Homo sapiens: one gene and its partners. The protein of the gene in region 2 purifies or fractionates together with the protein of the main gene of each other region. This does not show direct contact. Each region holds a gene or a part of one and is shown on either strand. Other genes may lie near its edges. The genes, in order: ASPSCR1, UBXN6, QRICH1, DNAAF5, NPLOC4, TUBGCP6 and VCF1.

Evidence for each region.
Region 1: the proteins of UBXN6 (region 2) and ASPSCR1 purify together in Homo sapiens (affinity purification with mass spectrometry; 6 studies listed by BioGRID and IntAct, with this or other methods). This does not show direct contact.
Region 3: the proteins of UBXN6 (region 2) and QRICH1 purify together in Homo sapiens (affinity purification with mass spectrometry; 2 studies listed by BioGRID and IntAct, with this or other methods). This does not show direct contact.
Region 4: the proteins of UBXN6 (region 2) and DNAAF5 purify together in Homo sapiens (affinity purification with mass spectrometry; one large-scale study listed by BioGRID and IntAct). This does not show direct contact.
Region 5: the proteins of UBXN6 (region 2) and NPLOC4 purify together in Homo sapiens (affinity purification with western blotting; 3 studies listed by BioGRID and IntAct, with this or other methods). This does not show direct contact.
Region 6: the proteins of UBXN6 (region 2) and TUBGCP6 purify together in Homo sapiens (affinity purification with mass spectrometry; one large-scale study listed by BioGRID and IntAct). This does not show direct contact.
Region 7: the proteins of UBXN6 (region 2) and VCF1 purify together in Homo sapiens (affinity purification with mass spectrometry; 3 studies listed by BioGRID and IntAct, with this or other methods). This does not show direct contact.

What each region holds. Positions count from the first base shown.
Region 1 is NC_000017.11:81,976,164-81,980,428, reverse strand, and holds the start of ASPSCR1 (tether containing UBX domain for GLUT4), read right to left. Parts: upstream 2,801-4,265; 5' UTR 2,783-2,800; coding exon 2,681-2,782; intron 1,246-2,680; coding exon 1,190-1,245; intron 1-1,189. UniProt on the Homo sapiens protein: Tethering protein that sequesters GLUT4-containing vesicles in the cytoplasm in the absence of insulin. Modulates the amount of GLUT4 that is available at the cell surface. Enhances VCP methylation catalyzed by VCPKMT.
Region 2 is NC_000019.10:4,447,795-4,451,294, forward strand, and holds part of UBXN6 (UBX domain-containing protein 6), read right to left. Parts: intron 3,037-3,500; exon of another isoform or gene 622-3,036; coding exon 524-621; exon of another isoform or gene 1-523. UniProt on the Homo sapiens protein: May negatively regulate the ATPase activity of VCP, an ATP-driven segregase that associates with different cofactors to control a wide variety of cellular processes.
Region 3 is NC_000003.12:49,042,072-49,045,571, forward strand, and holds part of QRICH1 (transcriptional regulator QRICH1), read right to left. Parts: intron 2,434-3,500; coding exon 2,319-2,433; intron 1-2,318. UniProt on the Homo sapiens protein: Transcriptional regulator that acts as a mediator of the integrated stress response (ISR) through transcriptional control of protein homeostasis under conditions of ER stress.
Region 4 is NC_000007.14:733,199-736,698, reverse strand, and holds part of DNAAF5 (dynein axonemal assembly factor 5), read right to left. Parts: intron 1-3,500. UniProt on the Homo sapiens protein: Cytoplasmic protein involved in the delivery of the dynein machinery to the motile cilium.
Region 5 is NC_000017.11:81,606,113-81,609,612, forward strand, and holds part of NPLOC4 (nuclear protein localization protein 4 homolog), read right to left. Parts: intron 2,711-3,500; coding exon 2,616-2,710; intron 703-2,615; coding exon 579-702; intron 1-578. UniProt on the Homo sapiens protein: The ternary complex containing UFD1, VCP and NPLOC4 binds ubiquitinated proteins and is necessary for the export of misfolded proteins from the ER to the cytoplasm, where they are degraded by the proteasome.
Region 6 is NC_000022.11:50,224,524-50,228,023, forward strand, and holds part of TUBGCP6 (gamma-tubulin complex component 6), read right to left. Parts: coding exon 3,384-3,500; intron 2,555-3,383; coding exon 2,476-2,554; intron 2,320-2,475; coding exon 2,210-2,319; intron 1,856-2,209; coding exon 1,764-1,855; intron 1,667-1,763; coding exon 1,527-1,666; intron 1,421-1,526; coding exon 1,271-1,420; intron 70-1,270; coding exon 1-69. UniProt on the Homo sapiens protein: Component of the gamma-tubulin ring complex (gTuRC) which mediates microtubule nucleation.
Region 7 is NC_000017.11:73,222,395-73,225,894, reverse strand, and holds part of VCF1 (protein VCF1), read left to right. Parts: intron 1-3,500.

The DNA of each region.
Region 1 (4,265 bases), on a different chromosome or scaffold from region 2:
AGAAGACTGGAATGACTTGGCAGGTATCACCCCTAAGAAACTCCTCCCAGGAGAGCCTCGTAAGGCAGGGTGGGCAATGCCAGGAGGGCAAGCTCCTGCCCTCTGCCCCCAGTGTTAGGACAACAGTACTGTAAAAACAGGTCTTCAAGGGCAGGCATGGTGACTCATCTCTGTAATCCCAGTACTTTGGGAGGCCAAGGCAGGCGGATCACAAGGTCAGGAGTTCTAGACCGTCCTGGCCAATGTGGTGAAACCCCATCTCTACTAAAAATATAAAAATTAGCTGGGTGTGTTGGTGAGCACCTCTAATCTCAGCTACTCGGGAGGCTGAGGCAGGAGAATCACTTGAACCTAGGAGGTGGAGGTTGCAGTGAGCCAAGACCGTGCCACTGCACTCCAGCCTGGGCGACAAGAGTGAAACCCTGTCTCAAAAACAAAACAAAACAAAAAAAACACCAGAAAACAGGACTTTAAAGTGAAAAGCTTCGCGTGTGGGATAGACACGCACATCCTATCCATATGAGGGCTCTGACCCTTCTGCTGTCTCAGACTCCTTGAGAGTCTGGCAGAAGCCCTCTCTTGGGAACAATATCCCCACACAGAAGCGTACGTGTAATTCCAGGGGCTGTGAGACTGCAGGGATCCACCTGCAGTTTTCAAGGCATCCTATTTCTCCACGGCCAGCTCTTTCCCCTCAGAGCCCCACTGGGAACTTATGCAACTCAATGCAATAAAACCTACAGGGGGTTGAATGGTGGCCCCCCCAAAAAAGATGGGTCAATGTCCTCACCCCCAGGACCTCTGAACATCTTACTAGGGATCCTGGTCTTTGAAGATGTAATGATAAATCGTTCTAGATTATCCAAGTGGACCCTAAATCCAATGACAAGGGTCTTCCTGAGACACAGAGAAAACAGGAAAAGGCCACAAGAAATCGGAGGCAGAGAGCAATGCGGCCACAAGCCACAGAACGCTTGGAGCCATGAGAAGCTGGAAGAGGCAGGAGGGATTCTCCCTTAGGGCATTTGGAGAGAGTGTGGCCCTGCCAAGGCCTTGGGTCTCCAGAGTTGGGAGGGAATATATGACTGTTTAAAACCACCTGGGGGCTTTTCCAAGTGAGAGCCAGTATGTTCAGGGGGCAGGGGCACAGATATACTCAGACCCTGCTGCTGAGCTGGAGCAAACTCACTTCAGATCATATTCACAGGGGTTGAAGTCCTGCCGCCGGCACGTGTCCTCCAGAACCTGGGGGTGAGATGAAAGGATGGTGAACTGCTGAGTGTGCAGGGCTGGCGGGCGCAGTGGGCCAGGTCAGCCAAGGGCATTCAGCTTCCTGGTGAGCCAGGTGGCTCTGCCCAGGCAAAGCCAAGCACAAGACCACACTATGGACGGTCCCCGCAACAAATGCAGGCTCTCACCTGCAAATCCTGTCCACTCTCCCTCCCTTCTTCACCATCCCCTCAGTTTTGTAGGAAAGCTCCACTCAGAGTTCCCCTGCAGTACAGCAACACGGGCATCTTCCTGGCACACACCCTGGGCTCTCCTTCAAACCCTGTAGTTCTGCAACCTGCCTTAAACTTGCCTAGCACAAGCTACCCCCTGGCTCTGGCACGGTTCTGTGCACCTGCTGCCACTGCCTGCACCGCCTCCGCCCCTCTTCTCCATAAAAAGCCAAAGCCGTGGCCTTGCACCAAGGGGTCCCGCGCAGCCTCTGCGGGAGCGCCCCACTTCCGCACTCTGCACGCCTGGCACCAACAGCCTCCTGGCTGCGCCCTCCACCTGCCCAGGCCTGGGGACCCCACGCCGTGGGCTGCTCCCGCAAACTCCGAGTCGTGTGCACCTTCGGATCCTCACGGTCCCCCACGCAGCAGAGGCTCAATAAATACTTTTTTTTTTTTTTTTTGATATGGAGTCTCGCTCTGTCTCCCAGGCTGGAGTGCAGTAGCGCGATCTCGGCTCACTGCAAGCTCTGCCTCCCAGGTTCACGCCATTCTCCTGCCTCAGCCTCCCGAGTAGCTGGGACTACAGGCGCCCGCCACCACGCCCGGCTAAATTTTTTTGTATTTTTTTAGTACAGACGGGGTTTCACCGTTTTAGCCAGGATGGTCTTGATCTCTTGACCTCGTGATCCACCCGCCTCGGCATCCCACAGTGCTGGGATTTACAGGCGTGAGCCACCGCGCCCAGCCAATACTTTTACATTTAATTGATTCGCGGTCACAAGGTGCCCAAGTAAAAGTGCAGTGAGTGACTCGGCAAAAATCGCTTCCAGGCCCCACGGCCGGGACATCTGCCACCGCGCAACCCGGGCTCCCGCTCCGGGGGACGCCCCGGAATGGGAACGCGGGTCTAGGGCTCCACTCCTCCCTCTTCCCGGCGCCCTCGCGAGCTGGGCTCGGCCGGGCGCCGAGTACTCGATGCGGGTGACACGCGGCGCCGTTCTACCTCACCCCTGGGAAGGCTCGCCACCGCCCCGCCCCCACTCGGGACCCCCGGGACCCCCGGGACCCCAGCGGAAGCGCAGGTGACGGCGAGCAGGGGGCGGGGCCGCCGCTCAGGAGGCCGCTCATTGGCCGCCGAGGCCCCGCCCCCGAACACCGGGACGCCGACCGCAATGGGCGGGGCCTCGGCGCAGCGCCCCCCGCCCGCCTACCCGTCCGCCCCGGGCGGGCGGCCGCACCTGAAGCAGCACGGTGCTCGGCGTCACCTTCACCGTGTGGCGCCGGCCGTTCGGGGCCAGCACCGACACCGCGGAGCCTCCGCCGCCTGCCGGGGCCGCCATTTTCCGCTCACGTGACCCGCCGCCGGGCCGGCGTCAAACAACTTTATCGGCAACAGCCAGGACGCGCAGCCACGCGGCCAGGGGGCGGGGCCGCAGCGCACTTCCGGGTCCTGCCAGGCCCCGCCCTTTCCCCACCCACGGCGCCCCGGCCCCGCCCTTGGGCCGCCAAAGCCCGCGCCAGACCCGGAAAGCGCGGTCGTCCTCTGCCTCCGGGAAGCGCGGCTTGGATGGGCTCGCCGGGGCCAGGCTGGGCCGGGGCTGGGCGCGCGGTCACCCCCGGTGAGCGGCACTGAGCCCCGGGGTCCCAGCGGTCCGCGCTCGCCCACCCTCGCTTCGTCCCTGACACGTCCCCAGCTCGGTGCCCTGCTCTCCCCCGACCCTCCCGGCTTCCTCCACTCCAGCAGCTGAGCCTCTTCCCTGCCCACCTGTCCCTGTGGTCAGCGTCCACCTCCTGACCTTATGGTTTGGGGCAGTCCCCCCGCCCCTGTACGGATCCTCCCTGGGTGTTGGGACTCGTGGCCCTCAGTCTAGACCTGATTTCTTTCATCCTAAAATGGGAGTGCAGAATCTGGCAGCCCTAGGGCTGCCGCGACGGTCCCTAAACCTGAGGGTAGGAAAGGCGGGAGACCGGTTTCAGAACCGTGGGGTGAGCGAACTTGAGTCTCACCGGAGCTCCTGCCGACCCACAGGCACTCAAGGACTTCCCGCACCAACCCATGCTGAGGAGGGGCTTGGTGGCAGCCTCAGGAAACACTCCCATCGCCAGCCACCGCAGCAGGGAAAGCACCTGGCCTCACCAGCTCCAGGCTTCCAGAAGGAGCTGCCCTCCTGACTCGCAGCCGTCGAATGTGCTTAGCTCCCAGCACCTGGGCCACTCATGGACAGCACTCGCACGTGTTCCGCCCCGCCCCCCACCTCCATGGCTCAGCCGGGCCTTGGCACTCCTCTCTCCATGTGCCTGCCTGTCTCTGCGGACTCCTGGCTAGGGCTCAGCTGCCCAGTAGCCTGTGGAAGGGGGAACTGGTGCAGTTATCAGTCAATCCTCCCACAGGGCTGGGATTACACACGTGAGCCACCGCACCCGGCAGTCATTGCTGAGTCTAAGGACATCTCTGCATGGGTGCTGTTGTGCCTTCCTGTCGATGACATATCCATGTCACCCACACACACCTGTATGCTGACAAACACGGACATCTATGTACATTGGAGAAACCTGGGGAAAGCCCCAGGCTAGCCATAGCCCTCCCATCCAGCCAGCCAGTCCCATGCTCTGTGCAACCTCAGAACCTTACTGAGCCACACATCACCTGGTGGGTTTTAATTCTTTAGTGGCGTTTTTGAAGAGTCTGTTCCTATTTTCCTTAGACTGTCCCACAGTCTGGATCCTTGGTTAAACGTTTGGGGCAATGATGAAGGGAGGTGACAAGTCAGCAGGAGGTGCAGGACATCAGCGTGGCCATGAGTGAGGACGTGAAGTTGAACC
Region 2 (3,500 bases):
CTCGGACACCCCATGGAGCCCACCCCTGGTGCCAGCAGGAGCCCCACGGAACCCCTCACCGTCCCACCAGCCCTGGAAGGGCACAATTAACCACAGCGGTGGGGAAGCCACAGTGCCGGAAGAGTGGAGAGCCAGAGCTGAAGGGCCGCAGTGCCAGCAGGGGGCTCCTGCGGGGTGCTCCCTCGGCGTTGGCGGGCAGCGTGGACCTCCAGGCCTGCCCCCGATCCTGAGACCCGGGGAGTGGGGTGGGACCCTGCCTCCTCCACATGTTCCCCAAGGAAGCCAGGGTGGGAAACCCCTGATTCCTTCAACACCTTCATTTTGCACACGGGTAAACTGAGGCCCAAGGAGGCCCAGCCCTTTGCCTGAGGCCTCTGGGTGGAGCTGCCTCACTCTCGGCCTATGCTCCTTCCCAACCCACCTCAGCAGGTAATGAGGGGGCCAGAGGGGGTGACAGCCCCAGTGGGAGGGGTGCTGGGATGAGCTGGAGGGGCCAGGCAGGGCAAAGGGGCCACACGCTCACTTGGCAATGGTGTCCACACCCAGCTTCACCCGGTCCTGGTCTTTGTTGAACGTGTAGATCTTCATGATGGAGGCGGCCACTGGGTCGGTGGAGAAGTGCTGGGAGGAGGGAAGCAGGGAAAGCCACTCACTGAGAGCCCGGGCCGCACGGCCCTCCGCTGCCCAGGTAACAGGGGCAGGAAAAGGAAGGCAGAACAGCGGCTTGGAGCGGCCCCAGCTGTGCGCTCATCACAGAAAGGAAAAGAGAGACCCTCCAAGACCGCAGCCCTGCCCACGCCCCAGGGCAGAGGCGACGCAGCCAAGACCCAGCAGAACTCAAGTCTCCCCTTCCGCCTTCTCAAGGCTAGATCCATGGGACTTGGAAGCCAGTGTGACGCGACAGAACTGTGCCTCACACTCTGGCTTTAGAACTCGACCTCAGTGCTGAGATCCATCAAGGCCACCGCCACTTACAGAACCTCCCGCCACCATGGACGCCCCATCCCTCCTGCTCTCGCAGCCCCATGATGGACGTTCTGGAACCACTCCCGGGCCTCATGTTTACAAAGAGACCGAGAGGCCCATCGTCCAGGGTCACAGGGATGGCAGGTGGCAGAGAGGACACAAATGAGTCTGCAACCCTCAATGTCTGAAACTCAATAGCTGGAAGACGGATACCCCCAGCCCCTGCCCCTCCCCGAGGTCCCACCTATCCACCTATGTTACCGGGGGAGGGGAGAAGTCATAGCTGGAACTCTGGGGGTTTCCCAGAACCAGCCCTGCTGACTGCGAACAGCGTCCCAGCATGGAGAGGCTGAGAACAGTACGTACCCTAAGACCTGGAAAAGATTGGGGCACAAATCCACGCTCGGCACAGCCATCACACACGGCCACACCCAGAGAGCCACCCATGGCCTGGGAAGCAGGGCTGCCACCCGCACCTCCCTGGGCTGCCCAGACGAGGGCGGGTGAACAGAAGGGCAGCCCAGGGCCATGTGTCAGGATTCGGGCCACCTGCCCAGGCAGCCCAGAGCTCCACCCACCACCCCCCACCCTCAACTGCACAGCAGGGTCCCTCAGCAGCCCCCTGCGTCACACGGACCAATGACCTACACACTGAGCCGGGGCTCATGCCAACTGAAAATTGGGACCCGGCCCAGTCTGCCGGTTTAGTTGCTGAGATGATGTGGGGAGCGGGACAGAGCACGTGGATGCAGAGAGGCAGAGCTGCCAGATGGGCATGTCCCCAAGACAACAGCTTCCTTGGGATCAGAGCGCCCGGGACAGCACACCAGCCAAGGGAAGCGTGTCAGCTCCAAAAGCGGGCCTCGGGCGTTTTGGGCGACTGGCTGCCAGGCTTAGGTCAGGAGCTGGGTACATGCACAGACAAGGGACGAAGGAACAGCAGCCAGGAAGGGGTCCAAATCCATACAGGAATGTACTTTGTGAGAAAGGTGGGATTTCACAGCTGTAAGCAAAAGACAGGTGCTCTCGACAGGTGGGGCTGAGAAGAAAGCTGAGCCAAGATCTAAAAAAAAAATTACATCAGCTCCATCCCACCATGTTACATAATAACATGCTCCAGCTGGATCAAAGCTTCAACCATGGAAACAAGCAAGCAGTCAAGGAGAAGCCAGAAGAAAAGCTCTGGAGGCCGGGCACGGTGGCTCATGCCTGGAATCCCAGCACTTTGGGAGGCCGAGGCGGTCGGATCACGAGATTAGGAGAGCGAGACCATCCCGGCCAACATGGTGAAACCTCATCTCTAAAATACAAAAGTTAGCCCGGGTGTGGTGGCGTGCACCTGTAGTCCCAGCTACTTGGGAGGCTGAGGCAGGTGAATTGCTTGAACCCGGGAAGCAGAGGTTGCAGTGAGCTGAGATTGCACCACTGCACTCCAGCCTGGTGACAGCAAGACTCTGTCTCAAAAAAAAAAAAAAAAAAAGCACTGGAGAGGCCACAAAAGAATTCTCTCAGCATGGAAATGGGGAAGGCATTTCTAAGAATGACCCCAAACCCAAAAGCCATGAACTAAAACTGACACATTTAATTATACAGAGATCAAAAAATCCTACACAGCAAAGTGACCATAAGCAGAGCCAACATAGAAGCAACTAGAGGGAAACATGTGCAACTCATATCATAGGCAAAAGCCTAAATTGCCTAATATGTAAAGAGTGCTGCCGGGCACGGTGGCTCCCGCCTGTAATCCCAGCACTTTGGGAGGCCGAGGCGGGCGGATCACGAGGTCAGGAGATCGAGACCATCCTGGCTAACATGGTGAAACCCCGTCTCTACTAAAAATACAAAGAATCAGCTGGGCGTGGTGGCGGTTCGCCTGTGGTCCCAGCTACTCGGGAGGCTGAGGCAGGAGAATGGTGTGAACCTCGTAGGCGGAGCTTGCAGTGAGCAGAGATGGCGCCACTGCACTCCAGCCTGGGCGACAGAGCGAGACTCTGTCTCAAAAAAAAAAAAAAAAAAAAAAAAAAAAGAGTGCCTACAAATCACTAATAAAAAGACAAACTATCTACTAAATAATGTAGAAAGGACGCATTCTCATATGAAACATGGCCAATCCAAAATAAGGAAAGTGCAAATTAACTCTATCCTGAGATGTTATTTTCACCTACCAACAGGCGTAAAGATCAAAGTTTGGTGATTTACAGTATGGTGAGAGGATGGGGACACGGGTGCTTTTGCACACACTGCTGGAGTGGGTGTGAGTCTGGAGAGTCTATGGAACTATTACTATTTTGTTTTGTTTTGTTTTTAAGATGAAGTTTCGCTCTTGTCACCCAGTGTCCACGCTGGAGCTCAATGGCGTGATCTGGGCTCACTGCAACCTCCACCTCCCAGGTTCAAGCGATTCTCCTGCCTCAGTCTCCTGAGTAGCTGGGATTACAGGCGCCTGTCACCACGCCTGGCTAATTTTTGTATATTTAGTAGATAGGGGGTTTCACTATGTTGACCAGGCTGGTCTTGGAACTTCTGACCTCAGG
Region 3 (3,500 bases), on a different chromosome or scaffold from region 2:
CTGTGTTTTTTTTTTTTTTTGGGCGGGGGGGCGGGGGTGGCACGGGGCAGACTCTTGCTCTTGTCGCCCAGGCTGGAGTGCAGTGGCACGATCTCAGCTCACTGCAAGCTCTGCCTCCCAGGTTCATGCCATTCTCCTGCCTCAGCCTCCCGAGTAGCTGGGACTGCAGGCACCCACCACCACAACCGGCTAATTTTTTTGTATTTTTTAGTAGAGACGGGGTTTCACCGTGTTAGCCAGGATGGTCTCGATCTCCCGACCTTGTGATCCACATGCCTCGGCCTCCCAAAGTGCTGGAATTATAGGCATGAACCACTGCACCCAGCCAAAGACACACAGGAATCTTAAAGGCATATTGCTAAATGAAAGGAACAAATCTGAAAAGGCCACATGCCGAATTATTCCAACTATATGACATTCTGGAAAAGGCAAAACTGTGAAGATAGTAAAAACATCAGTGGTTTTCAGGGTATCTGGGGGAGGGAGGGATAAACAGGTGAAAAGGTTTGTTTTTTTTTTTGAGACGGAGTCGCGCTCTGTCACCAGGCTGGAATGCAGTGGCGCAATCTTGGCTCACCACAACCTCCGACTCCCTGGTTCAAGCGATTCTCCTACCTCAGCCTCCCGTGTAGCTGGGATTACAGGTACCTGCCAACACACCTGGCTAATTTTTGTATTTTTAGTAGAGATGGGGTTTCACCATGTTAGCCAGGCTGGTCTTGAACTCCCAATATTCAGTGATCAGCCCATCTCTGCCTCCCAAAGTGCTGGGATTACAGGTGTGAGCCACCATGCCTGGCCCAGAAGAGGTATTTTTTAGGGCAGTAAACATTCTATATGACACCATGATGGTGACACATGTCATCATACATTCATCAAAACTCAGAATGTACAACAGATACAGAATGTAAACCAGAACGTACAACACAATAATATAGTTCATAGCACTATGAACTATAGTTAACAATAATGTATCAATATTGGTTTATCAATTATAACAAATGTACCATACTAACGCAACATGTTATTGATAGGAGAAACTGTGTGTGAGGGTATATACTTAAGGAGTTATATGGAAATTCTCTGTACTTACTGCTAAATTTTTCTGGAAACCTAAAAGTACTCTAAAACATAAAGTCTATTGGCTGGCCGTGGTGGCTCATGCCTGTAATCCCAGCATTTGGGAGGCCGAGGTGGGCGGATCACCTGAGGTCAGGAGTTCGAGACCACCATGACCAATATGATGAAACCCTGTCTCTAGTAAAAATACAAAAATTAGCCAGGCGTGGTGGCATGCTCCTGTAATCCCAGCTACTTGGGAGGCTGGGATAGGAGAATCACTTGAATCTGGGAGGTGGATGCTGCAGTGAGCCAAGATCACACCATTGCACTCCAGCCTGGGCAACAAGAGCAAAACTCTGTCTCAAAAAAAAAAAAAAAAAAAAAAAAAAAGTCTATTAAAAACAAAAATAGGCCAGGCACGGTGGTGGCTCACGCCTGTAATCCCAGCACTTTGGGAGGCCGAGGTGGGCAGATCACAAAGTCAGGAGTTTGAGACCAGCCTGGCCAATGTGGCAAAAGCCTGTCTCTACTAAAAATACAAAAATTAGCAGGGCATGATGGCACATGCCTGTAATCCCAGCTGCTCAGGAGGCTGAGGTAGGAGAATTGCCTGAATTGGGACCTGGGAGGCGGAGGCTGCAGTGAGCCAAGATCGTGCCACTGCACTCCACCCTGGGCTATAGAGTGAGACTCCGTTTCAAACAAAACAAAACAAAACAAAAATAGCTGAGCACAGTAGCGCATGCCTATAGCTCCAGCTACTCAGGAGGCTGAGGTAGGAGGATCGCTTGAGTTCAGGAGTTTGAGGCCCATCTCAGCAACATACCAAGACCATGTTTTTTTAAGAACAAACAAAGAAAAACACTGAATAACCTATGCTTTTGTTCCAATAGAACATGCTGTCCAGAAGGCTGCCTGTGAGTAAAGCAAAAATTATGCTCTACAGATAAAACTGTCCATAATCCTTAATTGTTATGATTCTAATTTTAATCAATACATTTTAATAGGAAAAAAAAGATAGTAACTACCCCACTAGTTCTGCTTGTTCCTGTGTCCTTCCCACACTGGAACCAGCAGGCTTCTCTGGTGAGCAGTGCCTCTTCCCTATCAGGGCAAGTAGCACAGTGGCCAATGCTGCTGCAGTCTGGGATTTATATCCCCCCTCACTCACATGCTTTTCATAGCCAACCACAGAAGCTATTGATCTTTCTTAAATCCAGGTAGGAAAGATATCCAAGGACAAGGGAGACTCTTACCAAGTGGAGTGACCCGGGGCTGAACATCCTTCAGAACTTCATGTAGCCACTCCGTGAACCGAACATAATAAAGATCGGAGAAAATGTCATCTACCCTTCCATTTTCAAAAAGATACTAAAAGAAAAACAATTAATAGAAGTTATTGGTAGTCTCCTGAACAAGGATTTCAGGGGAAATAAATATATTTTTCTACCAGTACTACTATCCTTCCCTACCCATTCACACCTCAACAAACCAAGGCACCAGCATGTGACACTTCCATAGTATGCCTAAGCTCATGTGACTGATTCTCATGACATTCTTGAGAGTTGGGTAAATAAGGCAGATGTTGTGAATGCTATTTCACCCAAGAAAGGCATTATTTTGTGTTAGCAAAAATCATGAATAGGCTCTGGGGTCAGCCTTCCATTAGATATTGTATAAGTTAAACAACATGTGCAAGTCTTTTAATTTCTGAGACTCAGTTTCCTTGCCTGTAAATGGAGATGATGGTATCTGCCTTCCAGGACTGGGAGAGCAAAGAATGAAAGCATGTAAAGCAATTCACATAGTACTTAGGTTAGGACCACCAAGAGAGGAAAAAACTAGGAGGCAGACATTTCTCAAGACTAGGCAACAGAATAAGTCCCAACCAGTAAGCCCTATTCTATTATACTGTGGGTTTCTCCTCAAGAGCCTTCAAACACTAAGAAATCCACCTCTGCTCCCTTGAACTGCCAGTCTGCAAATTTCTGTTATGCTTCACCACAGATGTCCTGAAAACCTAACTACATTGGTATATTATTCTAGCTAGACTCCTTCAAATAAGTAGTTAGTGCAGGGAACAATGAGAAGAAAACCTCTATGCTGGCACAAGACTCTGTTTTGAATAAATTACCTTCATGAAAATCAGGTTTAACAAAAAGAAAAGTGTTACATAAATGCTTTGTGAATTACAAAAAAAAAAAAAAAAAAAAAAAGTCAAGGTAATTACCAATAATGTAATAGAAGTTTAGGTAGTAGGATGAATAATGTTTGTTTTCCTATTTTATTATTTATTTTATGTATTTATTTTTTAAGAGGCAAGGTCTTGCTTTGTAGACCAGATTGAAGTGTGATGGCACAATCATAGCTGAATGCAGCCTCGCACTCCTGAGCTCAAGGGATCCTCCTGCCTCAGCCTCCCAAATAGCTGGGACTAC
Region 4 (3,500 bases), on a different chromosome or scaffold from region 2:
CGTAACCAGACTAAACTCTCCATTCAAAAGACAGAGCGGCTGAATGGGTAAAGAAAAACAGGACCCAGCAATCTGTTGCCTACAAGAAATACACGTCACTAAAAAGGCACACGTAGGCTGAAAATAAAGGGATGCGAAAAAAGATATTCCATACAAATGGAAAGCAAGAAAGAGCAGGAATAGCTACACTTAAGACAAAACAGATTTCAAGACGAAAACTATACTAAGAGACAAAGGTCATCATATAATGATAAAGGGGTCAACTCAGCAAGAGGATATAACAACTTTAAATATATATGCACCCAACACTGGAGTATCCAGATATATAAACCAAATATTACTAGAGCTAAAGAGAGAGACAGACTCCAACACAGTAACAGCTAGAGGCTTCAATGCCCCACTTCCAGTACTGGACAAATCATCCAGAGAGAAAATCAACAAAGAAACATCAGACTTAATCTGTACTATAGATCTAATGGACCTCATAGGTATTTATAGAACATTGCATCCAACAGCTACAGAATACACATTCTTCTCCTCAGCACACAGATCATTTTCAAGGACAGACCATATGTTAGGCCACGAAACAAGCCTTAAAACATGAAACTAGAAATTAATAACAAGAACTTTGGAAACTACACAAATACATGGAAATTAAATAATATGCTCCTGAATGACCGGTGGGTCAATGAAGAAATTAAGAAGGAAATTTTAAAAATTCTTAAATGAAAATGGAAACACAATATGCAAAAACAGCAAAAGCAGCACTAAGAGGCAAGTGTATAGCAATTAGCACCTACATTCAAAGAGCAGATAACTTCAAACAGCAACCTAACACTGCATCGTAAAGAACTAGGAAAGCAAGAGCAAACCAAACCCAAAATTAGTAGAAGACAAGAAATAAGAGCAGAAATAAATGAAATTGAAATTAAAAAAAATACAAAAGACCAACAAAATGAACAGTTAGATTTTTGGACAAGCAAAATCAACACACCTTTAACCAGACTAAGAAAAAGAGAAGACCCAAGTAAATAAAATCAGAGATCGAAGAGGACATTACAAACAACTGATACTACAGAAATTCAAAGCATCATTAGAGACTGTGAGCAACTACACTGTGAGCAATGACATCGTGAGCAGCGACACTGTGAGCAGCTACACCATGAAGAAAACCGTGAGCAACAATATCAGCAACTACAATATGAGCAACGACACCATGAGCAGCTACACCGGGAGCAGCTACACCATGAACAACTACACCGTGAGCAGCGACGTTGTAAGCAGCTACACCATGAAGAACAACACCATGAGCAATATGAGCAACTACAATATGAGCAACGACACCATGAGCAGCTACACCGTGAGCAGCTACACCATGAACTACACCGTGAGCAATGACATCGTGAGCGGCGACACTGTGAGCAGCTACACCATGAAGAACAACACCACGAGCAACGGTATGAGCAACTACAATATAAGCAATGACACCGTGAGCAGCTACACCGTGAGCAGCTACACCATGAGCAGCTACACCATGAACTACACCGTGAGCAATGACATCGTGAGTGGCGACACTGTGAGCAGCTACACCATGAAGAACACCATGAGCAACAGTATGAGCAACTACAATATGAGCAACGACACTGTGAGCAGCTACACCGTGAGCAGCTACACCATGAACTACACCGTGAGCAATGACATCGTGAGCAGCGACACTGTGAGCAGCTATACCATGAAGAACAACACTATGAGCAACAATATGAGCAACTACAATATGAGCAACGACACTGTGAGCAACACCGTGAGCAGCTACACTGTGAGCAACTATACTGTGAGCAACTATATGCCAATAAATTGGAAAACCTAGAAGAAATGGATAAATTCCTAGACACATATGACCTACACAGATTAAATCATAAATCCAAACCTTGAACAGACCAGTAACAAGTAATGATATTGAAGCCGCAATGAAAAGCCACTGAGCAAAGAAAAGCCCGGGTCGCAATATTTCACTGCCAAATGTTATCAAACGTTTAAAGAACTAATGTCACTCCTACTCAAACTATTCCAAGAACTAGAAGAGGAAGGAATACCTCCAAACTTAATTTATGAGGCCAGTACTACCCTGATACCAGAACCAGCCAGATGCAATCGAAAAGGAAAACTACAGGACAATATCCCTGATGAACACTGACGCAAAGTTTCCACTGTTTCAACAGCACATGAGAAAGATCATTTGTCATGACCAAGTGAGATTTATTCCAGGAATGCAAGGATGGCTCAACATACACAAATCCATCAATGTGACACATCATATCGGCAGAATGAAGGACAAGAACTACGTGATTATTTCAAGTGATGCTGAAAAGTATTGATAAAATTCAACATCCCTACATGATAAAAATCTTCAAAAAACTGGGTATAGAAGGAACACACCTCAGTACAATAAAAGCCATATACAAGACTCACAGCTAGTACCACACTGAATGGGGAAAAATTGAAAGCCTTTCTTCTAAATCTGGAGCAAGACAAGGATGCTCGCTTTCACCACTGTTAGTTAACACAGTACTGGAAGCTCTAGCTAGAACAATTAGACAAGAAAAATAAAGGGAATCCAAATTGAAAAGGAAGATAATTATTCTTGTTTGCAGATGATATAATCTTACATTTGGAAAAACCTAAAGATTCCACAAAAAACCTATTAGAACAGATAAACAAATTCAGTAAAGTTGCAGGATACAAAATCACCAAAAAAGCCCCAGTAGCATTTCTACATGCCAACAGTTAACAAATCTGAAAAAGAAATCAAGAAAGTAATTCCATTTACAATAGCTACAAACAAAATAAGATACCTAGGAATTAACTTAACCAAAGAAGTGAAAGATCTCTACAATGAAAACTATAAGGCCAGGCGCAGTGGCTCACACCTGTAATCCCAGCACTTTGGGAGGCTGAGGCAGTCGGATCACGAAGTCAGGAGATTGAGACCATCCTGGCTAACATGGTGAAACTGTCTCTACTAAAAACACAAAAAATTAGCCAGGTGCGGTGGCAGGCACCTGTAGTCCCAGCTACTCGGGAGGCTGAGGAAGGAGAATGGCGTGAACCTGGGAGGCGGAGCTTGCAGTAAGCAGAGATCGCACCACTGCACTCCACCCTGGATGACAGAGCGAGACTGTCTCAAAAAAAAGAAAGAAAACTATAAACCACTGACATGAGAAAACTGAAGAGGACACACACAAAAAATGGTAACATACTCCATGGACTGGAAGAATCAATATTGTCCATACTACCCAAAATGTCCATACTACCCAAAGCAATTTACAGACTCAACGCAATCCCTATCAAAATACCAATGACATTCTTCACAGAAATAGAAAAAATAATCCTAAATTTATATGGAACCTCGAAAGACGTTGAATAGCCAAAGCCATCCTGAGCAAAAAACAAAACAAGACAAAAACAAACAAAAAACTGGAGGGATCACATTACCTGACTTC
Region 5 (3,500 bases), on a different chromosome or scaffold from region 2:
TGCCCGGCCAAAATAAAGTAGTTTTCAAGAAGAAAAAAGGAATAGAGAATAGGAGGTTTCCAAAAAAGTCGAGGAGGCCACGGAATTCTCTCTAAGGAGCCGTTTTCTCTAAGGGCACAGCGGCAGGAGGAAGGCGAGGCAGGCTACTCAGAGGCGGGACAAGGACAGCAGAACATCCAGAAAGGCCGGAACGCTCCCTCCTTCCTGAGCCACATTCTCTCCTTAAGCCAGCCTGGACAGGTGCTCAGAGCTGGTCCAAGGGGTGCCCCTTTACCAACCTTCAGAGCCAGTTTCCTCACAACCACTGAGGATTTTAAATAATCATCAGGAACATTCTGCCTCCATATGAGCCAGCAAAACAGAGAACTGAGGGCGCGCACTCCATATCTCCAAGAGCAAGAAGCCTTAAAAATGATATATTCAGTGTACCACTTCCACAAAAGGATCATTCAGTCCATCAAAAAGTACTGAAAATCCACCACGCATAGTGCTAATAGCATTCCACTCCAAGGGGCTCTTCTGGAAATATCCGTTTCTCAGCCATGAAAACAAATCTAGACAGACAGGGAACATCTCACCTGTCTGTTCAGCGTGATGGCGCTCGGCTGGCACTTAGTACAGATGCCATTCGGCCACGGGAGGTGCCCCTCGCACCCTGACTTAATCTTGCAGCTGATGTTCTCCAGGGCAACAAACTTCCCCCTACATAGAAGAGAAGCAACTTAAACATCACATTGGTGAAAAGTTGAGCAAGAGGCTGGAAATGACATGCTAAGTATCTTATACCTCCTGAACAGTGTCTCAGGAGCTAAGCACGTGGCAGCAGCAGGGAAGATGGGCTAAGGATGATTCTAATGGAAGCTCTACCTACAGTTCCAGCACATTCCGAATCCCAGCTTCTGTCCCACATACTTCAACCATACAGGAACACACAACTACTTTCCTACCAAACTGTGGTGTTTTTTACCATCTATCACTAACATCCGAGAAAGCTTTCAAGAATACTGTAGAATATCTACTGATCTCACCTGTGCCACTGAGCGGGCATGAGGCTCCTACAGGTTTCATTAAATTGTCAGAAACTTTGACATTAGCCCAGTACTTAGATATTTGTAAAAAATTCTTATTCATGGGAAAAATCTGATTAGGATATATAATTAAGGCATCTTTACTCTGCTTTAGGCTAAAATAAAAACTACTGTTGAAGACTGTCAATGAGAAAATCCTGGACCCTACTCTGAACTTTTTCTTTTTCTCCAGCTTTATTGAAATATAACTGACAAAAAAAAAAAAAAAAGAAATCTGTATCTTTAAGGTAGACGTGAGGTTTTGTTTTTCAAATAAAAACGATATATTTACAGTGTACGAAATGATATTCTGAAACATGTCCACACTGTGGAACGGCTAAATTGAGCTAATTAACATATGCATTACCTCACATACTGATCATTTTTGGTGGTGAGCCATTTTTGGTATCATAGCATCTAGGAAGCAAAGACTCGTCACTGAATCTGCATGCTAACAGCAGCCACAAACACGCCCCCACTAGAGACTGTGTTCCTTGACCTAGACTGAGAAAGGCTGACCAAGTCTCTTTCACTACAATCAATCTGCACCCACTCCTTAGTCCAGAGAGTTCCACAGCTTTCCCCACTGACAAGCAACAGTGGGTTTCTAGCAGGTTTTTTCTTCTGGTCTAACATTTTTAAAAAGTCATTTTAGGATGTCAGCAGGTTGTCAGAGAAAAGCTACAATCAGGCGAATATGACATCCTTCACAAAATGTTGCTGACTTCAGTTCAGCCACCATCTCCTCGTTGCACTGACAGGAATTATAAAATAATAGCTGAAGCCTGCTACTTTCTGGTAGGGTGTACAGAGAGCCAACAGGAGAAGGTCATACAGGCAAGGGCTTGCCATGGCTTAAAAGAAATCAAAATGCTCAGTTCACCCCTTTCTGGCCACTGTTACCACCTCTGCCCACCTGGCTGAGCCTGTGGGCAACTACTGTGGTACCATGAGGATTAGTGGCTGCAGCCCCTGCTGTGGCTGAAAACCAAGCTGACTCAGAGGCCAGGCTCTGGGGAAAGGGTTACCAGGCACTGAGGTGGGGAAGCTGAGATTCTCACAGGGTAGTTGTTTTTCTGAAAAGCAGAGAATGAACTCAGACCACAGAATCAACAGGCCACCATCACAGATGCTAACTTGCTGGGGTGGTGTGTGTGGGGACAGCCTCTGTCTGATACTGCACTGTGGCCACGCAGCCAGGCGCCTGCACAGTCGCTCTGCCTTGCTAGCTCCCTTCTAGAACCAGGTTGGCCAGGCGAGGTGGCTCACACCTGTAATCCAGCACTTTGGGGAAACCAAGGCAGGAGGATCACTTGAGCCAAGGAGTTCTAGACCAGCCTGGGCAACATAGTGAGACCCCATCTCTTAAAAACATATATGAGTACATAAAAAATAAATAAATAAATATAGAACCACGGTAACTTTCAAAGGCGTGTGACCCCTTCTCATCTTTACTTCTCTCATTCACACGTTCACTGGCTATAAGCAACAACTGCCAGCTACACAAAAAGGAATTTACGCACAACCAGGTTACAGCAAGTTGCTTACTTGTCAGCCCCTCCAGTCAGCTTCCGGATGTAGGCGTGGAAGGACATGTGCTTCACGGGAGGCTCGAGATGGTTTAGATAGTCCTCATCGAATGGCTGCCAAGACACAGAGTAAGCGAGTGCAGTCTCACACGTGCCGGTCACTCCAGGCGCTGAGCCTCTGCTACGCACAGGGGGAGGCCAGCAGCATGGCCTTGGCAAGTCAAGGCCCACAGTGAAAGCAGGTACTAGGGTCTCCCTTACCACTCTGAGTCAGAACCAAGTTTTTCTTTTTTTAATTAATTGTTTTTTGTTTGTTTGTTTTGAGACGGAGTCTCACTCTGTCGCCCAGGCTGGAGTGCAGTGGCACAGTGGCACAGTCTCTGCTCACTACAACCTCCACCTCTGGGTTCAAGCAACTCTTCTGCCTCTGCCTCCCAAGTAGCTAGGACTACAGGTGCACGCCACCACGCCCAGCTTATTTTTGTATTTTTAGTGGAGACGGGGTTTCAGCATATTGGCCAGGCTGGTCTCAAACTCCTGACCTCATGATCCACCCGCCTTGGCCTCCCAAAGTGTTAGCTTTACAGGCGTGAGCCACTGAGTCTGGCCAATTTAACTGTTTTAGAGATGGGGTCTCATGCTGTTGCCCAGGTTGGAGTATGGTGGTGCAATCATGGCTCACTGCAGCCTCGACCTCAAGTGATTCTCTTGCCTCAGCTTCCTGAGTAGCTGGGACTACAGGCGTGAACCACCACACCCAGCTAATTTTTTAAATTTTTTGTAGAGACAGGGTATACAAAAAAAGAGTTGCCCAGGCTGAACAATTCCTAGGCTCAAATGATCCTCTGGCCCTGGCCTCCCAAAGTGTCGGGACTACAGGCGTCACTGCACATAGCCAGAAGCA
Region 6 (3,500 bases), on a different chromosome or scaffold from region 2:
CAGGACCCTGGATGCTGCTTCCCGGGCATGAGCGATTAATTCTTGTTTTGCAATTTCCATACGTAATTCCTGAGAAAGACAACTGGTAATCAAAGCATCCTGGCCGGGCGCAGTGGCTCACGCCTGTAATCCTGGCACTTTGGGAGGCCGAGGTGGGTAGATCACATGAGCTTAAGAGTTCAAGACCAGCCTGGACAACATAGCAAAAACCCATCCCTACTAAAAATACAAAAATTAGCCAGGTGTAGTGGCAGGTGCCTGTAGTATCAACTATTTGGCGGGGGTCAGGGGAGCTTAGGCAGGAGGATCCCTTGAGCCTGGGAGGTGGAGGCTGCAGTGAGCCATGTTCGAGCCGCTGCACTCCAGCCTCCTGGCTGACACAGTGAGACCCTGTCTCAAAGAAAAAAAAAGCAACCTAATCCTCTGACCCCTCACCTAGGATGCCCAGGACACCTGTGGACTCAGGGCCGGCAGGGGAGACACATGGTCCAAGGGTTCGAGGAGGGACCAGGTGATGGCAGGACACCGCCCCCCCGCCCACCCTCCCCCACCCCCAGGCTCTCAGCAGTGGCAAGGCTGGTTCCAGGCCATGGACGGGAGCTGACCGGCTCTCACAGAGACATCTGGGGCTGAGGACCCCAAGGCTGTGTGTGCCCACCCTGGAAGGAAACCAAGAGGCCTCAAGAGGGGGCTTCCCCGCTCAGCCTCTTAGGCCTGCCCCTGCCCAAGTATCCCTGCTGCCCACCAGGCACCAGGCCAGAAAGGGTGTTCCTGGGAATGGCACTGATTGTACCACCGAGCCCCTCCCAGAAGACACAGGAGAGGCGTGGCCCGTCCCTGACACACTGTCCCTTCCCAGCAGGAAGGGGGCTTGCAAAGGGCGAAGGCCATCTGGAGTGCAGCCAGGACTGTCTGTCCACAGCTGGCGGGCCCGGGGAGGCCCCAACGGAGTTTCCCACGCCAGCAAAGCCTGGGCTTCAGGCTGAGCCACCCAGACCCAGGAGGAGAAGTCAGAGCCCCTGCCTGGCATCTGGCTCCGGACATTCATCTCAGCTCCCCCTTGGCACCCACCCTTCATCTCAACTCCCCGTTGACACCCACCCTTCATCTCAACTCCCCCTTGGCACCCACCCAGGCCACCGCCAGGACAGAAAATGCCAGAAGGGAGGCCCCCATCTTGCACAGCCCTCATGTCCGCCCCACCAACCTGAGACCCCAGGAAGCAGAGGCAGGGGCGAAGAAAGCCCCCGAGACCTGTGGTGCCACGCACCTTCTCCTCCTTGCTGACAGAGCTGTGGCGGGCCACCCTCTCCATGCGCCCAACGTAGACGGCACAGTCCTTCTCAATCTCCTTCAACTCCTCAAGGGAGAAAATCACCGAGATCCGGGGGACAGGGACGTCGGACCAACAGAGGTAATGCTGCCAAAGGGGATGCAAGCACAGCCACCAGCACTCAGCCCCAGCCTCATACTCAGCCCCAGGGAAGACCGGCCCCTCTCTTCCCCACACATGAGCCCCTCCTCACCCGGGGGCAGCAGAGCTTCAGCAGGTTAATGGTCTTTCCGCAGACGTATATGTCGTGGGCAATGTGCTTCAGAAACACGGGAACACAGTCCTCCACCTCTTTGGAGATGAGCACGTAGCCATGTGTCCAGTACAACTTATCTAAGGTAGGGTGAACACCACGGTGGCCGGCATGGCCATGGCCCTGAACCCAGGCCCACAGGCACGGACCCCTGCCCCGCAATCAGCTGCCACCTACCTCGGAAGCTGAGGTACTCGTGGTTCACCTGAATCATGAACTCGCCATAAGCGTCTCTGAACACCCCGCTGTACACCCAGTCGTGGATGAACCTGCAGTGGGGGAAAAGCAGGGGTAGATGTGGTCAACGGAGAGGTGGGTGGGGCGTGGCTGTCAGTGAGGGGTGGGACAGGGGCGTGGCTGTCAGTGAGGGGCAAGTGGGGGCGTAGCTGTGAGAGGTGGAGTGGGGTGTGGCCATCCATGAGGGGCGGGATGGAGTGGGGGCAGGGTGGGGGGTGTGGAGTGGGGGCAGGGTGGGGGGTTGGGGGCTCCTGCCCAGTCCACCTATCCTGCCCTCCCCTTCCTGTGTGACCCCCACATTCAGCAGGTGTCTGACAAGGGACCGCTCTCAAGTGTCTGCCTGGTGGGAGTGCGCGCCCGCCGCGCCTGCCCAGCCCACTGCCCACCGGGTGTAGGGCTCGCAGCTGGTCTTCAGCAGGGACAGCAGTACAGGGTAGTGCTCGTTGCTGCAGTTGTGCAGAGCCTCCTGGTAGAGGTAGGACAGCAGCTTCACGCCCTGCAGACCGCAAAGGGGGTGGGGGGCAGCTCAGCGCACCCAGCGCTGGGAGTGAGGCGCAGCCCTGCCGGCAGCAGCCCTCCAGGGACACGCTCAGCCACCCCCGTTTCCTGGAGCCCACCAGGCTGACACACTCGGCAGGGACGCACAACTCACGGTGGGAAACGCGGCCCTGGGGCCTCCTCCACAGGTGCCCGGGAGCACAGCGCCAACGCCACAGAGCTCGGCCAGGTACCTAGACCCAGAGGCAGGATGAGACCAGGTGACCGGGCTCAGGGTTCCCAGGCCTGGATCAGATCGTGAGCAAAGTCTCCACGTATCTTTATGCTCCCTGGGGCAACTAACTTTAGATGCAGGCTTTAAAAACCACAGGCACCCCAACCACCCAGAAACGGGCTCCCTGCAGGACTCGTGTGCAGCCCTGTGCCCCTGCGCTGTCCACACACACCCCACTGAAGTACCCACACCCAGCAGGCCCTCCCTCCCAGGATCTGGCCAACACACGAATCACCCTGATCCTCCCACTTCTGGGGGCTGCACCTGAGAGCCCCTCCCATCCACACAGTGGTACCAAGCATCTGCCACAACTCGCACCCTTCACAGCCCAGCTCCCCTGCCCCACAGTGTCTCAGCCCTTGGGTCTCCTCAGCGCTGCCACACTCTGCTCCTCAGCCTGGAAGGTCGCCTCTCCCACTGCTCCCAATGCCCAGCTCCTCACTCTTCCTTCTCTGATGGCACCTGCCAATAGCCCCCGAGCCTGGTTGCTCACTAACCAGCTTGTGTGTACCGGACGCCACATCTCCAGGGACCCTGTGTGCCAATTAGGCAGGAGCCACCGGACCTGGAGGGCCTGGATGGGGCCAGCTGTGGTGGGCCCACGGCAGACACACCCGCTCAGCACCGGGCACCTGGTGAACTCGGCCGGCCAAGGGCCATCCGGTCGCCTGCTGAGGGCTGTTCTCACAGGCCCTCCTTGCCAGGGAGCAGGGCAAACCCTCCACCACCCAGCAAGCCCCACACCGCTCCCGCAAAGTCCCCTGCTCAGCCGCCATGCTGAGGCTCACCTGAGCTGCCGGCCAAGTTTCTTGAAGAGAAAACCAATGGTGAGGAGGCTCAGGGTGGGCGGAGTGGAAAGGACGCAGGCCCGGTAATACTGCAGGTACCTCCTCAGGCCACTGGTG
Region 7 (3,500 bases), on a different chromosome or scaffold from region 2:
ATATATATATATTATATATATATATATTTTTTTCCTATTTGCTTTTTTCTTTTCTTTTTAAAAAATGATTATCAGAAAGGTAATTGAGCTTTGTTTAATGTAATAGTTGGGAATCTCAGGGATGAAAGAAAACAAGATTAGAGGCTACCATGAATATCTAATGATAAAACCCTGTAATAGTAATTGAGTTTCCATTCTTTTGAATTGTAAGACTATTCATTAAAAGAGTATGCAAAGATTACTTCTATGGTGTTGGCCATCAGTATTTCCTTACTTGTGTCTGTATGTAAGTCCTGCTATATGATGTTCATTTCAGTCAAGGGTATGGTAGGTCTAACTCTCTGTATTAACGTTTTTTTCCCGTATCTGCCAGTTTTGAAGCCTGAGAACAGCAATAGAAATTGCCATCTTTTTCTTGCTTTTGTCTCTTGGTTAAAAAAAAAGAAAGAAATTGTCATCCTTTTTTAAAAAAATTAACATTTCTGATCTCTTAAGTAAGGCAGATATTGTAGATTTTTAAATTTTATTTATTTATTTATTTAGTTTTTGGTACAAAATGACCTTTACTCTCTTTCTAAAATCCGTGCATTGGTCTCACAGAAGAAAACAACGTCTTGTTACTCAACCTCCTGGGTTCTCTAGCTGAGCTTGTCCTTACTTGTCCAAAGAAATTCAGTTGTTGAGCCACTCCGTAATCATTATCTGAAGGAAGGACTAGATTGTCTTCCTTATCGTTTAAGGTCATTACTGGTAGTTTCTGTCTGAACTCACTGGTAGATCACCTAATGGGGTGTTACAACCATTAGTTTCAGCCTTGCTTACTGAACATTGACCAGAATAGCCTGCTGTGCCGTCCTGTGCTGTCCTGTCCTGTCCTATCCTATGCTGTCCTGTCCTGTCCTGTGCTGTGCTGTGCTGTGCTGTGCTGTGCTGTCCTGTCCTGTGCTGTGCTGTGCTGTGCTGTCCTGTCCTGTCCTGTCCTGTCCTGTCCTGTCCTGTCCTGTCCTGTGCTGTGCTGTCCTGTCCTGTGCTGTCCTGTCCTGTCCTGTCCTGTGCTGTGCTGTGCTGTGCTGCGCTGTGCTTCCTGGCAGTGGTATTAACAAGTAACAAGGACAAGTGAATGATGAGAGAGCCAGAGAAGCAAAAGGCAGAGGGAATATCTTTTAAAATGGAAAGTTAAGCCCCAAATAATGAAGTTTTCACTACTGGAATAAATGATTATGTTTGTAGCAGCAAAAAATCAAGTTTAGGGACATTTGGCTGGTTTTTGATGATTGTGTATAAAAGGGAAAATAAAACAATTCATTTTTAATTATATTAACAATTTAGACAAAATATTTTATTAATAACATTACTAATGAAAATGTTTTCTTTTAATTCTGAGGTAGGGCCATGAGGTCAGTTTCCTTGAAACTTAAGTTATGTAAGAGAAACCATTTCCTATGTTTTCCCTGAATGAATAAGCTTTGTCACCCAGACTGGAGTGCAGTGGTGTGATCTCAGCTCACTGCAACCTCTACCTCCCAGGCTCAAGCAATACTCCTACATCAGCCTCCCAAGTAGCTGGAACTACAGGCACATGCTACCATGCTGGGTTAATTTTTTAAGGTTTTTTTTTTTTTTTTTTTTTTGGAGAGACGACGTCTCACTATATGGCCCAGGCTGGTCGTGAACTCTTGGGCTCAAGCGATCCTCCCACCTCAGCCTCCCCAAAATGCTGGGATTACAGACTTGAGCCACCATGCCTGGCTAGAATTCCCTTCCTTCCTTCCCTCTGTTCTCCCCTCCCCTTCTCTCCCCTACCTTCTCATCCCCTCCCCTCCACTTTCTTCTCTTCCCCTCCTTCCTCTCTTCCTTTCTCCCTCCCTCCCTTCTTCCCTCCCTCCTTTCCTTCCTCCCTTTCTTTCTTTTCTTTCTGGCAGGGGCTCCCTCTGTTGCCCAAGCTGAGTGCAGTGGAATGATCATGGTTCACTGTAGCCTCAACCTCCTGGGCTCAAATGATCCTTCCTCTTCAGCCTCCTGAGGTGCTGGGACTACAGGGATGTGCCACCAAACCTGGCTAATTTTTTTAATTTTTTGTAGAGACAGGGTCTTGCTGTGTTGCCCAGGCTGGTCTTGAACTCCTGGCCTCTGACCCTCCTCCACTGGGCCTGGCCAAATTCTTTTTCTTATTTTCTTTTTTTTGTTAACCTGGCTGTTTAAGAATTCTTTTTCTTATAACTTGAACTTCATGAGGAATTTTTTTTTTAATTCTAAGAGAGATTTAAAAGTTACTTACAATTCATTTCTAAAAGTTAACCTTTTTGCTTAAGTACAATAATAATGGCGAGTACTAGGAAATATGTGAGGTGTTTTATTTATGTTAAACCATTAAATTGTGCCACAAGTAAATCACAACTATCTGTACAGTGGAGATAATAGTATCTGCCTCTTCTTTCCTAGATACTATAAAGCTAAATAATGTGAACTGATTTGCCGGATTAGTTATATAGAGAGAAACTTCATGTGTGCATAAATTAATGTGTGCATAAATGGCTTCTTTCCCCCATTTTATTTTTTTATTGTTTATTGTTTTTTGAGAGGGAGTTTCACTCTTGTTGCCCAGACTGGAGTGCAATGGCGCAATCTCGGCTTGCCATAACCTCTGCCTCCTGGATTCAAGCGATTATCCTGCCTCAGCCTCCCGAGTAGCTGGGATTACAGGCATGTGCCACCACACCCTGCTAATTTTGTATTTTTAGTAAAGGCAAGGTTTCTCCATGTTGGTCAGGCTGGTCTTGAATTCCTGACCTCAGGTGATCTACCTGCCTTGGCCTCCCAAAGTGCTGGGATTCCAGGCGTGAGCTACCGTGCCCAGCCTGTTTTAGTAGGTATTATTATCTCCACTTCTCAGATGGAAAACTTGGCACACAGAAAAATAGTCACTTGTCCAAAGAACACAGCTAGTAAGAGGCAGAGGAGGAACGGAGCCCCAGGGTGTGGTTGTTGGGCTGCACGCTCCTGACCATGGTGTGTGCTCTCCCAGAAGATAGAACAGAGGTTCTGCGAGACTTTGCTAAATATATCCAGGAGCAGCTAGAGCCTAGTCTTCTCTTTTTTTTTCTTTTTTTTTTTTTTTGAGACAGAGTTTCGCTCTGTCACCTAGGCTGGAGTGCAGTGGCATGATCTCAGCTCACTGCAACCTCCACCTCCCAGGTTCAAGTGATTCTCCTGCCTCAGCCTCCTGAGTAGCTGGGATTACAGGCACCCGCCAGCTCGCCCAGCAAATTTTTGTATTTTTAGTAGAAATGGGTTTCACGATGTTGGCCAGGCTGGTCTCAAACTCCTGACCTTAGGTGATCCATCCGCCTTGGCCTTCCAAAGTGCTGGGATTATAGGCGTGAGCCACCGCGCCCAGCCCTAGTTTTGTTTTGAGTCAGGAACAGAGAAGAACAATTTTCCTTCTCTTTTTATCTAGAAGCTGTTTTTTCCAAGTACATGGCATGATATGATCTTAGCTA